Regions from separate parts of the Homo sapiens genome. Here region 2 is linked to region 1. Evidence: fine-mapped expression QTL. Tissue or cell type: fibroblasts. Region 1 holds a variant in brackets; the other region holds the start of a gene. All regions are shown on one strand. Distances are between the middles of the regions.

Region 1 (8,108 bases):
TTCCACCCAGGATTCTTGTTAAAATGCAGAGTCTGATTCAGTAAGCCTGGAATGAAGTCAGAGATCCTGTTTTTCTTACAAACTTTTAGGCGATGGCAATACTGCTGGTCCTTTTTTACCTACTATAAAATTTCATCAGGGACTAACTGCAATTTCCTACTTCTTTCTATGTCAAACTCCTCCCCAGAGGTGATTATTTTTTGAGCTGTAAATATCATGCTAATACTGATATCTCTTGATTTTTTTAAATTTTATATGTCTAACTTCTGATTTTCTATAAAAGGTTAAGCTATGTCTTTCTTATTACAGCTCTCCATATGTAGAAATTCTGCCCCATCTTCACAATATCATTATATAACATATTTTCGTTTACTCAATGTATTCGATGTTTACCTTACTATGATTATATAAAAATTGTTAACAGCTAAGCCATATAGCATACTATGATTGTATTTCCATTCTTGTATTACTTTTAGTTTTCTCTGGATTTAATAGTTTCCCTGAGTTTTTTATTTGATTAATTTACATACTTGTCACTAATTAAGCCCCAAACTTTCCATCAGAACTAGAAAACTCCTTACAATTTGGTCAAACATGTCCATCTATGAGTTCCTTTCTTCCTTTTTTCTTGGCAACATCGCTCTGGGAGCACTCTATCTTCTGGCTCCAGTCCTGGCTACTTGCCCTCTGATCCTGTTGTGCAATTGTGGGGTAGTTGTTTTTTGTTTATTGTTTTGTTCGTTTGTTTTTGAAACTCCCTTTCACCGTTATCCTAGGGAGTCCCACCCCCTTCTCCTGGCTGGGTTCATGTCTTCCTCTTTCTTAGGTTACTGTCTCCTTTTTATTGGAGAGACTCTTTCAGTAGTTTCCAGAGAAAAAGTACTAGGGAGCCAAATTTCCAGAGGACTTGCATATCTGAAAAAGTGTTTCCCATCCATAGTTGACTGATAGTTTGGCTGGATATAGAATTCTGGGTTAGAAATCATTATTCCCCCAAATTCTTAAAGCACTTTTCCATTGTCTTCTACTTATCTTGTATTCTGATTCTTAATCATTTATAAATGCCTTTTTATTCCTGCACTCCTGAAACTTTTAAACTGGTTTCCTGCAATTTTACAGCAATGAGTTTTGGTGTGGTCCTTCATTTATTTATTGTGCCAGCCATTCATGGGTCCTTCCAATTTGAACATTCATGTCCTTTACTTTGAGAAGTTTTCTTGTATTATTCATTTTTATAGACTATTGAAAACATGTAAAAACATAAAGAATAATAGCATGAACACCCATCAAATAGCTTAAAAATTCAAACTTTGCAAATATAGTTGAAGACACCTGGTACCCCCACCCCACCCCCGCCTTTAATCCTTTTCCTCTCTGTACCCACCCACCTCCCAATAACCATTGCCTTGAATTTTGATGTTTATTGTTTTCAAGAATGCCTTTATACTTTTTCTATGAATGAATATGTTTCTATATACTTTATATTATTCTGTATTATAAATTTAGATTTTACATAAATGGCATCCTTATGTATATATTTTATCACAACTTGCTTTTCTTGCTCAACAAAATATTTTCTGAGACTCATTCCTACGTTGATTCATGTTGCTGTGGATCATTTATTCCAACGCTGTATAGTTTTTTGCTCTATAAATATACACAGTATAGCTAGCTATTCTCCTATTGATGAATCATTTTAGCATTCTAAGCAGTTCTACTATAAACATTCTTCAATTAACATTCTTCTACATGTCTTTTTTTTTTAATGAGTGCAAAAAATCTTTGACCTATATATATTTGGTAGCAGATGAGTCAGAATCAGATGATTCAACAAGAATTGTTACGTATAGGTAATGTGCATCTTCTACTTTTCTAGATACTGAGGAATTGTTCTCCAAAGTGATTGTAACAATTGCATAAGTGGTATATAAGAATTACAATTTGTTTATGTCTTTGACATTTCCTCTACTCCATTTTCTCTGTTCTCTTTCCAGAACTTGTGTTAGTTTGTTGCTGCAGTTCATATATTAATTCTTTATTTGCTATCTTTTCTATTCTATTTTTGACGTCTTTGTGGGATTTTTTTGTTTGTTTTACATTCTGGGAAATTTCCTCTACTTTATGTCCAATCTTTTTACTGACTTGTCTATTTCTCTTATTATATTTTAAGTGGTTCTTTATTATTTTCAGAATGTTTCTTACAATAATATTCTATTCTTGTTACACTGATGTAATCTTTGTTTTATATAGTTTTTAAAAAGTGTTTTAATGTGCATTTTCAAATATATACAGGAATAGAGAATACGGCCGGGCGCAGTGGCTCACGCCTGTAATCCCAGCACTTTGGGAGGCCAAGGCGGGTGGATCACCTGAGGTCGGGAGTTCGAGCCCAGCTTGACCAACATGGAGAAACCCCATCTCTACTAAAAATACAAAATTAGCCAGGCATGGTGGCGCATGCCTGTAATCCCAGCTACTCAGAAGGCTGAGGCAGGAGAATCACTTGGACCCAGGAGGCGGAGGTTGCAGTGAGCCGAGATTGTGCCACTGCACTCCAGCCTGGGCAACAAGAGCAAAACTGCATCTCAAAAAAGAAAAAAAAAAAAGAGAGAATACAATGAATGAATTTAAGCATCACCTAACTTCAACAATGATTAATATTTTGCCTATCTTATTTAACCTATTTTTCACCTATACATACATTTTTCCTGGAGTTCTCAAATTCTAGATAGTACAGTATAATATAGATACTTCAGCAGGTATCTTTAGAATATAAGAAATGTTTAAACCTAACCACAATACACTTATCACAAAAACCAAAATAATAATTTTTTTAAAATGCTTCCTTAATAAAATCCTATTTTTTGTTCAAATTCCTCTATTGTCTCAAAAAAGGCCATTTGACAGTTGGTTTGTTCAAATCAGTATCTAAGCACTATCTTCCCATTACAAACGGTTGATCTGCGCCTTCAACATGCCATATATTTATTGAATAAACTGAGCTGAATACAGTAGACTTTTTTCACTGTTTTTTTATTCTTTTATTTATTTATTTATTTTTACTTTTTGCTTTTCCTCTGAGTTTTTTGTTTTTGCATTCTTATTTCATGTGAAAGTCTTTGTCAAATGCCTGATGATCATTAGCTTGCTGTTAATAATTAAGAGAAGGGCATTAAAAAACAGCCTGAAAATTCTATGTGCGTGTTGAGAACTGTAGACTTAGGGTGATTATTAGAATCTGGCTGTTTCAAAGGGGTGTTGGAGGACGGTGTTGGGTATAGAAGGCAGTAGCTGTATGTTACCTCCCTTGGTCTGGCAAACTTCCCAGATACCTTTCCAGGAGCTTTTAAGCCTGGCTCTAGATGTCGGAGAAGGGGCAAGCATGGGCTTAACCGTAAACTTTAACAGGACCTTCCACTCTTTAGCACACACAGCACCTAACCCCTGACTGCAGCTTGACCTTGTTCCCAGAATGTAGAGAGCCTCTGTAATTCCTCTGACTCATCCACTCCAAAGAGCAAACCTCCC[T/C]CCTGTGCCCAGGTCTGGAGGGGTGGAGACCTCACTGCCTGAGCTGGGGCTCTTACAGCACATCCTGGTCTGCAGTCTTCTTTTCTGCAGCCTCAGGGAGCTCAGTGCTTTCAACCTCTGGGTTCTTTCTTCTACCCTTACTCTACACTCCCCTACCTTTCACTCAGGGATCTAGATTACAGTTTTACTTTATTGGAAAGTGAATAAAACTCCAGCTATTACCTTATTGGAGTGTCTGGAGGGAACAGAGGAAAATACATGTACTCCACCTACCATGTTAAACCAGAAGGAGGTCTTGCATTCTTTTTGAACAGATTCATTGTGACACTAAGACTTGTATCTGTATACCTATGCATATATGGATTGCTTTTATTAACATTTGGTAAATCAAAAGTACCAATTTTCAAACATTAAAATAAGGAAAAACTTGTCTAAATTTCAACTGAAAAAAAACTATGCCAGAATTTTTAAAGCCAGAAATTATCTTGTTTTGAAGACTTAAAATCATTCTGTTTGGGGAAATGAAGATTTTCCAAACTGTATATAACTTTTAAAACAATAAGAGGGAATGTTCAATAATAGAGACTGTTTGGGGGTATTTACTTTATTAATTTATTAATAAATATATTAATTTATATAGAAACAAGTCTTCTATTAGATAGTGAGTATGCATTTGTGAGGTAACAATTTATTTCTCTCTTCCTTAGGGCTGTCACATGGTGACTGAAGAACTTCATTCCATAACGTTTGAAACACAGATCTGCCTCTATGGCCTGACCATAGATTTGGAGGTAGGTGTTTCAAGAACATACACTATTTACTAATGGCATTTGCAAGAATTGGTCAGCATTAATAGATGTAAGCTCAGTCTTTTCTAGGTTTTAGTACATTCCATATTCATTATTTTGTTTTAATTTAGAAAGTCAATATGTCAAATATTCACTAGTTAACATAATATTTTGGTTAAATATATATGATAAAAGCTTGTGGGTAGCTGGGTGCAGTGGCTCACATCTGTAATCCCAGCACTTTGGTAGGCCAAGGTGGGTGGATTGCTTGAGCCCTGGAATTTGAGACCAGCCTGGGCAACAGGGTGAAAACCCCCACCTCTACTAAAAATACAAAAATTTGCTGGGTGTGGTGGCATGTGCCTGTAGTCCCAGCTACTCAGGAGGCAGAGGCAGGAGGATTGATTGAGCCCAGGAGGTGGAGGCTGCGGTGAGTGCTGATCATGCCACTGCACTCCAGCCTGGGTGACAGAGTGAGACCTAGTCTCAAAAAAATAAATAAATAAAAAATAAAAGAAAATAAAAAGCTCAAGAGTATTACGAACTTTATATACATTAAATAATTTGTTGCTCAAGTTCTTGTTTGTTTGTTTTCTGGGATTTCCTGAGTCATGAACACTCAGTGGAAAGCCTAAAGAGAAATAAGTATCCTTGAGCTTATGTCATGTAGTGATATATTTTCTTTTTTTTGTAGTAATATATTTTCAAAAATTTAACTTTACATAAAAACTCACAGAAGGAAGATTTATCTAACATAATGAGCAAAGACAAATAATAGGAACATTACAGTATGTTGCTTTGATCCTCATAAAACAATCACCACTAAACTCAAAGAAAGAATAAAGAAACTTTTGGAATTAAATTGAACATGAATTGACTATGCGCTCCTTGAAGGCAGGACACCGTGAATGAATCAGTGCATGAATGAACAAACACAATCTCACACACCCTGAATATGATCCTATTGTGGAGTATATTGTTTTAGAATTCTGCCTTTGCTCTTTTATCTTAATGATGGTAATATGTTTGCAAAAGCTTTCATAGATTCCTTCCTCACCTCCTTTCCCTAAACCTCTGTTTTTATGAGTTGTTAAAGTTCCTCAAATGGGTATTTTACCATCTACAGGAATCTGATGTCTGTTATTGGGAAAAGAGTACTGTAAGTTGATTAGTTTCCCAAGCTAATTTGTAAAAGCCTGTTTATCTCATAAAGTAGAAAACCACAGAACCAAGAGTATTAAATTGAGTTAGTTCTGTAACAATAGCACAGACGGCTCTATCTCCCATAGCTTATCTCTCCTATTTTTACAATAGAAACCTCCCACTTCCAGTGTTTATGTTAATTAGGTGTTAGGTCATAATTTGAAGGTACTGATTCATTCCAGAGATAAACTTAAAATAGATTCTTTTATTTAACTTATAGAGAAGATTGTTGCTAATTCAATAGACTCTCTAATATATTGCACTTGAGACAGTGGGTGACATTTAAAAAGTATAAATGTGTCCGCAATGTCAGGGGAGATACTGGGAAGCTGCCTGACTGAGCACTCTGAAAGGATTCCTGCTCTTTCCTCTCTGTGCCCTTACTTATGCATGCTCAGAAAGTTCCATGGCCTTCACAAGTCATTTCAGTGACCAGGGCACCATGGACATCAGGACTGGAGGTGTGGGGCTGGCTTGAGATTGGCCCTTTAGAGGCGAGGGTCAAGCATAAGATCAATGTAAGGTGGGACTACCTGTAATAACTATGCTTTTTTCCCCCCAAACCAGACCAGCTCATTGCCTGTGGTGATGATTTCCAATGTCAGTCAGTTACCTAATGCTTGGGCATCCATCATTTGGTACAACGTGTCAACCAACGATTCCCAGGTAGACTCTATTTCTACCTCAACTTCTTTAATGCTATTCGATTTGTTTTATTGCCAACAAACACATCTGCATCAAAACATGTGTGTGCCAGTGGGGTGTGGGGTGAGAGTTGCTTTATTTGTAGTATTTCTAGTTGTATGTTTCCTCTCATGTCATATTTAAAGTAGTATGTTCTGATATATGTGGACCCTGAGAGAATTCTGCTAGCAAAAGTAACAGGGATTTGTTATTTCTGAGGGTCTGGTCAGCTGCCAACTATGTGCGTACCAGAGAGTTCCAGGGCCATCCTATGACTCTGTTAACTAAGCTGAAGGAAACTTCTTACCTCCCCAGCTGCTCTGGTCCCACCTTGTCCATGCAGTCTCTTCTACAAAGGTAGAGAATTGGTTTCCAAGTAAGTAAGTAGAATATTCATCAATCTTGCCTAATCGTATTCTGACAGTGCACATTTTCAAGTGGATTACAGATTTCATCCATCCTAGGCTCAAGCTGGGTTTTAATGCTATCTGGTCGTTGTGACACTGACCCAAAATTGGCCTCAAGTCACAAAGCAAGCAGTGAATAGGTGTTCTTCTTATAAGACAACCAGGGAAGGGAGTGGCAAAAAAGATGAGTCAGCACTTCCCCTTGCACCCCTCCTTCAAAACCTCAGTGTGTTGTCCTGGAAACCACTGAGGTCTAGAGAAAATAGGTCAGATGTAAATAACAACATTTCTTCTTAATTCAGAGCAAATGTTCCCTCCAAAGGGAAGAATTCTTCTACTTTAGATCCCAGTAGTAAGAACAAGATCATAATGAATCAGCTGTTAGTGTTCTTTCTCTTTGATTCAATGTTCTAATAAGGAAACAACGAGGAAAATGACTCAGGCCTACTCCTTCTCCTCCTCAAGTGCCCTAGCATCTGAGACAAATTAATTGCAGAGAGGAAGACTGTGCAGGGTGCCCCAAAAAGAGCAGAACTTACCAGAGAAATCGCCTGATCTTTAAGGCAAAGGACAGCCAATGCCCCTGAGATTAAATGCTGATCCCCATTAGATCTACACATGTTCAGCTTTCTTCCAACTCCAGGGAGTAGAAGGAGTGATGGGATACTTCTCTGTCCTCCAGCCTCACAGAGAAGTGCTGCACTTAGCTTTCTTCAGCAACCTCCTTCTGTAAGAAAGGCACCAAAGTCGTCACACCCATCATCCCAAATTTACATGGCTCTAGGATGAGAATCTAGAGCTATAGATAATATACAGCTCCTAAAACACAGATTCACAGCCTAGTTACAGAACCAGTCTAAACAACTAATCCTGGTTTCTCCTCTTAATTCTATCCTGCTTTGAAACCTAAGCCCTTAGGCCTTGATTGTATTCTGTGCTTTCTGGTCACTTTTCCAGGCACCATTCTCAGGTTCACAAAAAACCATCTCCCTAGAAATTCTTTCTCTTCATTCCTCCTCTTCCTATTGCCCATTCCTTGTTGGATGCTGTGTCCTCTTTCATTCCCACCTTCTGAAATCTCTTGAATTGGTTCTTTTTCTTGATTAATCTAAGCCCAATTTAGCTCTTGTTCACAACGGCCTTTTCCAGGCACCGCACTGGATTTCTGAATTCTTCCTTTCCTCTTCTTGAAACATGTTTCTTGAGTTTCACACATCTGTTTTCCAGTAATCTGGGACAGAGTCTTATGTTTCACTATTGTTGACCTGGTTTCTGGCACAATCTCGTTTGTAGTCGATCACACAGAATATTCTCTTATTTAGCTGGGCACAATGGTACACACCTGTAGTTTCAGCTACTTGAGAGGTTGAGGCAAGAGAGTTTCTTGAACCCAGGAGTTCAAGTCCAGCTTGAGCAACAGAGCGAGATCATTTCTCTGTTTTTGTTTTTTTTAATTATGTAGAGCAAATAAGAAAAGACTACTATGGTGTCCATAAAA
Region 2 (8,108 bases), 110 kb before region 1:
TTTATAATAATACTAATACAGTTTTGTCTTTTCACCCTGCTGACATTTGCACCAATGGTACCAAAGCAAAGGTGGGTGAAACTGTTGGGGCCTTAGCACAAAGCAAGGAAGTGGTGCCAAATTATACTAGCAGTTGTATATTTCACCACCATGCACTTACAATAAAATGCCAGTTTGACTTAAGAATGTTTTTGATGAAGCAGTAAAAATTATTAATTTTATTAAATCTCAGACCTTAAGTACACGTCTTTTTAATATTCTTTGTGATGAAATGGAAAAGGCACATATTAAAGGATGATGGTCATCTCGAGGAAAAGCACTTGCGTGATTGTTTGAGTTGCCAAGACGAGCCTGTCACTTTAAGGAAAACAACTGGTAGTATCTGCTGCCAATAATAAAACTGAGCTTTCAAGCAAAAATTAGAATTTGAGCTTGACTGCTTCCCAGTATTTAAAATACTTACATGATGAGATCAACATTGATATTACCTGACATGAATTTCTGAACACTGTATGATGAAATGTTGTATTCATTGTATGATGAAGTAGGCAGCATTTAGAAAATCTGCATACTTCAGTGGACCAATGTTTTTTAAATGACCAGTGTCTGACATTGCAAAATAATTTGTGGGTAATAGTTTCATTCAAAATATATACAACAAAAGATTTGAATGTAACAGTATACATAAAGTATATGTTTACATAAAGTATACATAAAGTATATGTTGATAAGGTTTCAGATTTCACAATGCAACTAGCCCTTCAGAAACTACCACTCATTGAGTTTTGATGTGGTATCAAAGAAGAATAATTATTTGAAAAGGTCATTATAATACTCCCCTTTTCCAACTACATAAATGTGTGAGTCCATACTTTCTTCAAATATGTCAACCAAAATAATACTTTGCAGCAGATTAAATGCAGAAACAGATATGAGAATCCAGCTGTCTTCTCTCAAACCAGACATTAAAGAGATTTTTAAAATGCCACTCTTCTCATTACGTTTTTCATGTTGGAAGATATATTTGTTTTTCTTAAAACATGTTTAACATGGAGTGGGTTTATTATTGTCATTTTGAAGGAATAAATACATATTTTAATTTTTTCTCAGATTTAAGTTTTAACACAGTAAATAAAAATTTCATCCAGAACAGTAATACACAAACATTCCTTGGGTTTGTCAACAATTTTTAAGGGAATAATGGTATCTTGAGAACAAAAGGTTTAAAAACTGCTGTGGAAGCCGCAAGGTAAGGCCCTGAAAAGGAGGAGGAGAACAAACTCTGTTTTGTACAGCAGGCACTCAACAATTGAATATGATAATGATAAGGACATGTAAAACCAGTGTGACTAACACTATGAGGCAGGAAGTGAAAAGTGCTAAATAAGTGGTCTAGATGTGCACTGTCCAACACGGCAGCCACTAGCCATATGTGGCTTGGAATGTGGCTAGTCCTAACTGACATGCCCTGTAAGTGCTAAATATACACCAGACTTCAGAGATTGAGTATGAAATAAGGAATGCAAAGTATCTTATTGATAATTTTTTATATTGATTATATGCCAAAATGTTAAGATTCTTGTATATATTGGGTTATTTACAATATTAAAATTAATTTCACCTGTGCTTTTTTCCTTTTTAATATGGCTATGAGAAAATTTACAATTACATATGTGGCTTACATTTTATTTCTCTTGGAGAGCGCTGGTTTGGACAGGAAGTATGAAGAATTTGGAGCAGGGAAACATTGCTGTGGGTTCAGGTCATCGGGAAGTCTTCACTGAGAACTATAGGATTTCACTAAGTAGGTAGGCTCAGGGAGGAATATCCAGTTGAAGAAAGCCTCGGTAGTGAAATATGAGGTTAATCTGGGCAGCTGAGGTGACTGCTTGGGTCACATCATGGGCTCTTATAGGGGAGAAAAGTTTCCTGGATAGGTTGGGACCAAACTGTACAGAACTTAAACTGCCAAGAATTTGGATTTTTTTCCTATAGGCAGTGACAGCTTCTCCAGAAGAAAATCAGACTTTGCTTAGTAGCTTATGGAATAGCCTGAAATTGGCACTTTCTTATGTAGGGTCAGAGCAGCATAAGCTCCTGGAAACTGCCTGCTCAACAAGCAGTGGGGACCAGGCCTACCTAACCAGGAAATTTACAGTGATATGGAAAGTGTGACTTTGGATTGATTGACCTATTTGGGGGTGGGTGGTAAGTTTAAGCACATGATAATGTCACCTGGGAGAGAAGAATCCAGAGGGTGTACCTGTGTGAAACCCGTCAGGGAAGAGGGAGGCAGGCCTTTCACCTTGGTATATTGCTCTAAGCATGTGTATAACCAAATTGAGTGACACTTTCTACCTTTCTTTCAGTCTGTCTGTCTGTCTTTATTTTTGTCTTTGTTTTACTATTTTTACTTTCTTAAACATTTTTATTGATTTTTTAATATACGGTGGGATTTTACTGTGTTGCCTGGGCTGGTCTCAAACTCCTGGGCTCAAGGAGTCCTTCCACTTCAGCCTCCCAAAGTGCTAGGATTACAGGTGTGAGCCACACGCCTGGACTTCTCTTTATTTTATTGAACCCCTACTGTGAATCAAGGGGTTAAGAGCTAACTACAAGGAGATGAAATGAAAAGACCACTGAAGTGGGAAGGGAAACACCTGGGCTATTATCGGGCTCCGTGGCTAACTTATTGAGTCCTCTTGGTCACCTCACTGGGTCTCTTCAGATATGAAAGAGGATTTAGCATTAGATGGGACCAAGACTTCCTCCAACTCTGTGATTCTAGAACAGGCTGATGTCACAAAGGGAGAAGAACGCACCGTAGCAACCAGGGGCAAGGCTACTCAAGGAGAGTAGGAGGAGGCTAGGTCAGGAAGGGCAAGCACTGGTGGCCTACCCAGGACTTGGCCCAACCCTCTGGGTCAGGTCACCCTCGTCGGAGTGAGCGGACCCCGCTGGAATTGGAGCCCAGTAAGGTCTATGAGTTTGGTGTTTTGATCCTGGCTACCCATCCCTTCCATCCCAGGGGTGGTTCACCAGGCTGAGTGGAGCCTTATACTAGGGAGAGAGGAAGCTGAAGAACTGGGCTCCAGGTAAGTAACTCTGCAGAGGATCTCAGATTGTCTAAGGAAACCACTGAAGAAAATGTATGCCCCGCCCCTCCCCTTTTTCCTGGCACTGCTGAGCCACCTGCAGTTGCGAGAGCCGCTGGGAGGGATAAGAGGGAAGAGGACGCCCGGTGAAGGGGCTCCAGCCTGGCAGTTTCTGCGTGTTAGCATTTCTAGAATAGAGTGGGTGGGAACTGACCCAAGTAAAGTCCCAGAGACTCGAACACTGACGCACAGGAAAGCCTCAAGTGGGAGGAGAAATGCAAATCCCCTACTGATGATGGCGTCAGCGGCTTTCTCCTAGGGACTGTGAGGGGCGCTTCTGACTTTGGACTTGAGCACTGCCTGGGACCTGTGCTGAGAGAGCGCTAGGTAAGTGGCCAGACCACACCTTCTGGCTGCCTCTTGTAAGGAGGACATGCTTATTATGCAGGATACTCTGAAGCTTTGCTTTCCCTTGGCGTTTTGACAATTGCTTCATTTTAACCTTCCTGAGGAGGCTTATTATAGAAGGAAGCGCCCGACTCCACGACCCACAGATGCGCCCTGGCACGGGTTCTCCGCGGAAACCGCTCCGCAGGCCCGCGCCACGGTGCCCGGGCGAATCTCCCTGCGGGGGCCAGGGGAGCTGCGGCGGCTGCGGAGGTGTGTCCTCGCGGAGGCTGAAAGTGAGCCCCTCTTCACTTTCTTAGCCAGCTTCTCTAGAGCTGTGATGTCTGACTTTAGATTAGCGTACCTGGATTTCAGAAAAAAGCTTGCAGCTACGGCAGCCGGTGACTGTGGCTTTGATGGGCGCGAGTGACATTTTAGGGCAGGTCATCTCCTTTTGCAAGCTACAGGCCACAGAGCCAAAGCGGCACCACCAGCTCACAGACGGTGGGACAAAATGCCCCTTTAGTGGGATCTTCTAGGAAATGCACGCAAAAAGGACAGACAGGCACTGAGTTTTCAGAAGCAACGTCACAGTTTTCATGAGAAAGAAGTAGCCCCTAGAGAGTGAAAGCAAAGAAACCTGCTGAAGGATGTCTAAAGGCGTTCCCAGAGGCTGCAATAGAAAATGTCCTAGGACTATGTATTCCTTCTTCTTCCTTTTTTCAGCTTTGAATTCAGCTCTCCGAAAGACTCAGATCTTAGTAGTGATTTTTTTCGGTGTTTATTTTTATTTTTTTTAATTTTCCTTTTATTTTCATTTGACACACAATTGTAAATATTTATGGAATATACAGTGATATTTCAATAAATATGAACAATGTGTTATGATCAAAGGATATTCAGCATATCCATCACCTCAAACATTTATCATTACTTTGTGTTGTGAACATTCAAAATCCTCTTAGCTTTTTGAAAATATACACTAAGTTATTGTTAACCATATTCATCCTAGTGTTACAGCACTAGAACTTATTCCTCCCATCTACCTGTAAGTTTTAGTTAGAAAATAGATTTTTCATCCAAATCATAGCGGGGGTTTAACAATAGTATGATGAAAAACTGTAATGCTATTTTCAACTCATGTTCTCTGTTGTCATTAACTAAAATAAATTGATAGATAGGACAATGTTGATAGTAGCATGAGAACAAATGTTCCAATTTTGTGTGGAATATATACACATCCGATGGAATATATATACATCCGATATCTGGAAAAACAAATGGTTCAGACTCAGGAAACCTCAGGTTGTCCCTTAGAAGCCTCACACATTAGGCAGGCGTCATTTCGCCTATTTGATCTTCAAGTTTTTCCTTTTTAAAGTTGACATACTACTTATATCCACCTACCATATTCATAGCAATGTCAGGAGTGCCACTCATTCTTCATTTAACAAGCATTGATTGAGCATTTACAATATGCCTAGAATTGTAAAGTGTAAAGGTTTTCATAAATATAAAATGATATGCAAATAAAACATTACTTCTTTTCCCACTTGCTTTCTCTTTAGCAAAACATTGGCAACACGTTTTTTTATAAATTTTAAGTCATTTACCAGGAGCTCAGGGAAAAGGTGCTCAAAATGATTCTACTTAAAACCCAAAGAATATGTATATGAAATATATGAAATTACCCTGGTGTTCTATAGGCAAAAGGAAACCTTAGCCTATCTATGAGATATGTTGAAATGTTATGGTGATTAATCATGTAAAAGGGGGTTTGGTGTTTTTACTTGACTTAGAATTGCTGAGAAAACAACCAAAAATTTGACTTTGGAAAACATAAAATGCTGTAATTTCAAGGAGGCAGCGTCATACTAATTTTCCTGAGTTAGGAAATATGTCTACAGCTTCTAAATTGGCCAGAGTGGGGTTACAAGGGGGAAATGCGTACTTTTCTTTTATGACAGGCTGCCAAATAGGTATCAAGTGTGGTTTCTTACTCCTTAAGTAACTTGAGGGTTTAACCACTATCAGATGTTTCTCAGAGACAAAAAGACTACATCCTTTAAGAGCTTTGCCCATCTATAATGGATCCTCACAGAGAGAAATGAAACACATTCACTGGTTCAGAAATATTTTTAATTTAAAAAACTGGAGCCTACGAAAATGCATACATAAAATTCTTCATGAAGCTAAGACAAAATTGGACTAGAAGTCAAGAACATAAAGCTGACTCTAGAAGCCAGACAAATCTGAAATAAAGAAAAAAGAAATTTGGCAATTTCATATAAAAGAAGCTTCTTGGGGGGTTGTTCCTCACATATAAAGTCTTAGAGGGTTTTAGGAGGTATAGTAAATGTCAAATACGTTTGCCTTCAAGTTGCTCCAAGTCTAAATGTTGAGGGGACAAGAGATAGGGAAAGAGCTTGTTGATAATAGAAATTCACATAGACAGCTGTGGGCAGGATGTGGGGTGTTTGGCAGAGTGGGAGTGAAAACTTTTTGGAGCAGGTAGAACAGGAGTTCATTTTAGAGCAAGGAAGGCTGTAGTTTAGGGGCACAGAAAGAAGGCTGCTCCCTTCATTAGGGTTGAATTATGAAAAAAAACCTTAGTGAAATTTTTGTATCCTTGGATATATTGGAATTCAGTCATAACATTGACTAATTCTAAGGAAAGAAGAAAATATGTACTAGGGCTATGAACAATATTTTAAAACTCTAATTCTACACCTTCTTTTATAGCATGTCTCAGTGGAATCAAGTCCAACAGTTAGAAATCAAGTTTTTGGAGCAGGTGGATCAATTCTATGATGACAACTTTCCCATGGAAATTCGGCATCTGTTGGCCCAATGGATTGAAAATCAAGACTGGTAGGATCAAACATATTTTCCCTAGAAGTTGATGCACAAATGTCTGATGCTCTATCCATGTGAATTTATTTTATGGTCCACTTTTTACTCAGTAGATGCATTCTTTTCAGGTAAAGAACTTTCTCAAGGATTTGAAAGCCTTCCCAAAGAAGGGGAATAATTGTCCTTTCTGGTTCCATTCATTGTAAATGAAAAGTTAATGGTTCCAGTGCTTCTTTTCTCTGTAAACAAAAACCCAAATAATTTTTCATGTATTAAAAAAAGAAGCAAATCAATTGATTGTCAGTTCTCTATCACAGACTCAATGTAAATCAATATTTTTTTCTCAGTAAGATTTATACTCTTCAAAGCTCTATTCACCTTATACCATTTAATTTTTTTCAGCCATCTTTTTTATTGTGGTAAAATACACATAACATAAAATTTACCATTGTTTTTGGTGTACTATTCAGTGGCATTACATATATTCACATTATTATGCAACCATCACCACCATCCATCTGCAGAACTTTTTCATCTTTCCAAACTGAAACTCTGTACTCTTTAAACAGTAACTCCCTAGTCCTCCACCCCCAACCCCTGGCAATCACCATTCTATTTTCTGTCTCTGTGAATTTGACTACTCTAGGTACTTTAGATAATTGGAATCACACAATATTTTTCCTTTTGTAACTGACTTATTTTGCTTAGTGTAATGTTTTCAAAATTCATTCATGTTTAACAGGTATCATATCAGAATTTTCTTCCTTTTTGAAGCTCAATAATATTCCATTGTTTGTATATATCACATTTTGTTTTATAAATGTATCTGTCAATGGACATTTGGGTTGTTCAAACATTTTGGCTATTGCTAATAACCCTGCTAGGAACATTGGTATGCAAATATCTGTTTGAGTCCCTGCTTTTAATTCTTTTGGGTATATATCCAGATGTGGAATTGCTGGGTCATATAGCAATTTTATGTTTAATATTTTGGGTAACTGTCATATAGTTTTCCACAGTGATTGACCATTTTACCTTCCCACCAGCATTGCACAATTTCTCTGTATCCTCACCAACACTCATTTTCTGTTTTTTCTTTTCCTTTTTATAATAGCCACCCTAATGGGTATGAAGTGGTATCTTACTCTGATTTTCACTTGAAATTCCCTAATGATTAGTGATGTTGAGCATCTCTTCATGTTAACAATTTAATTTTTTAAAACTTTTAAATGCTTATCACCATGTAATAGGTTTATTGTTTTAAAGTTAGTATGGTAAAAAAGTAGACATTTTACAAAGTTGTTTTCTGTTGTGTAATAATCCTTTTTTTTTTTAGGGAGGCAGCTTCTAACAATGAAACCATGGCAACGATTCTTCTTCAAAACTTGTTAATACAACTGGATGAACAGTTAGGTCGTGTTTCCAAAGAGAAAAACCTACTCTTGATACACAATCTAAAAAGAATTAGGAAGGTCCTTCAGGTAAGAATGCATTCTACTTTTCCAAAATATTTGGATATATGAGTCTTAAATTTAGTTAAAAATTAAATATGTACCCTTATATTATTTTCAAATGAAATTTAGGGGAAAATTGAGTTGTCTTACCACTTACAAATTTTGTGCTCAATTTTATTACCTAACATTTTTCATGAAATGTTGAAAATAAAATACACTAAAAGTATAGTGTATAAAATACATTACAAGTGTGTTGCATGTGGGACTTGCATGTATCTTGTTTACTAGCTATGATTCAGTTCAACAACACTGACCAGAC

Which allele goes with the higher level. Positions count from the first base shown, and alleles are read on the strand shown. Sizes are in standard deviations (SD) of each study's normalised expression.
In carriers of allele C in region 1, the expression in fibroblasts of the gene that starts at base 3,435 in region 2 tends to be higher than with T alone (small effect, 0.26 SD a copy in GTEx).

What was found. PIP is the estimated chance that this variant, and not a neighbour inherited with it, causes the effect.
Region 2: STAT4 starts here. The variant in region 1 is fine-mapped to the expression of STAT4 in fibroblasts (GTEx, PIP above 0.99).

What each region holds. Positions count from the first base shown.
Region 1 is chr2:191,037,276-191,045,383 of GRCh38, reverse strand. STAT4 (signal transducer and activator of transcription 4) reads left to right here. Exons shown (of 24, transcript NM_003151.4): 15 at 4,236-4,319; 16 at 6,087-6,185. Among named protein-coding and RNA genes, the nearest start is that of STAT4-AS1, 20 kb to the right of the region's middle. The variant T/C (reference allele first, on the strand shown) is at 3,529.
Region 2 is chr2:191,146,321-191,154,428 of GRCh38, reverse strand. It overlaps STAT4 (signal transducer and activator of transcription 4), which reads left to right and starts at 3,435. Exons shown (of 24, transcript NM_003151.4): 1 at 3,435-3,482; 2 at 6,225-6,353; 3 at 7,672-7,816. The coding sequence starts at 6,226. RefSeq lists enhancers at 3,016-3,095, 3,226-3,275 and a silencer at 3,746-3,795.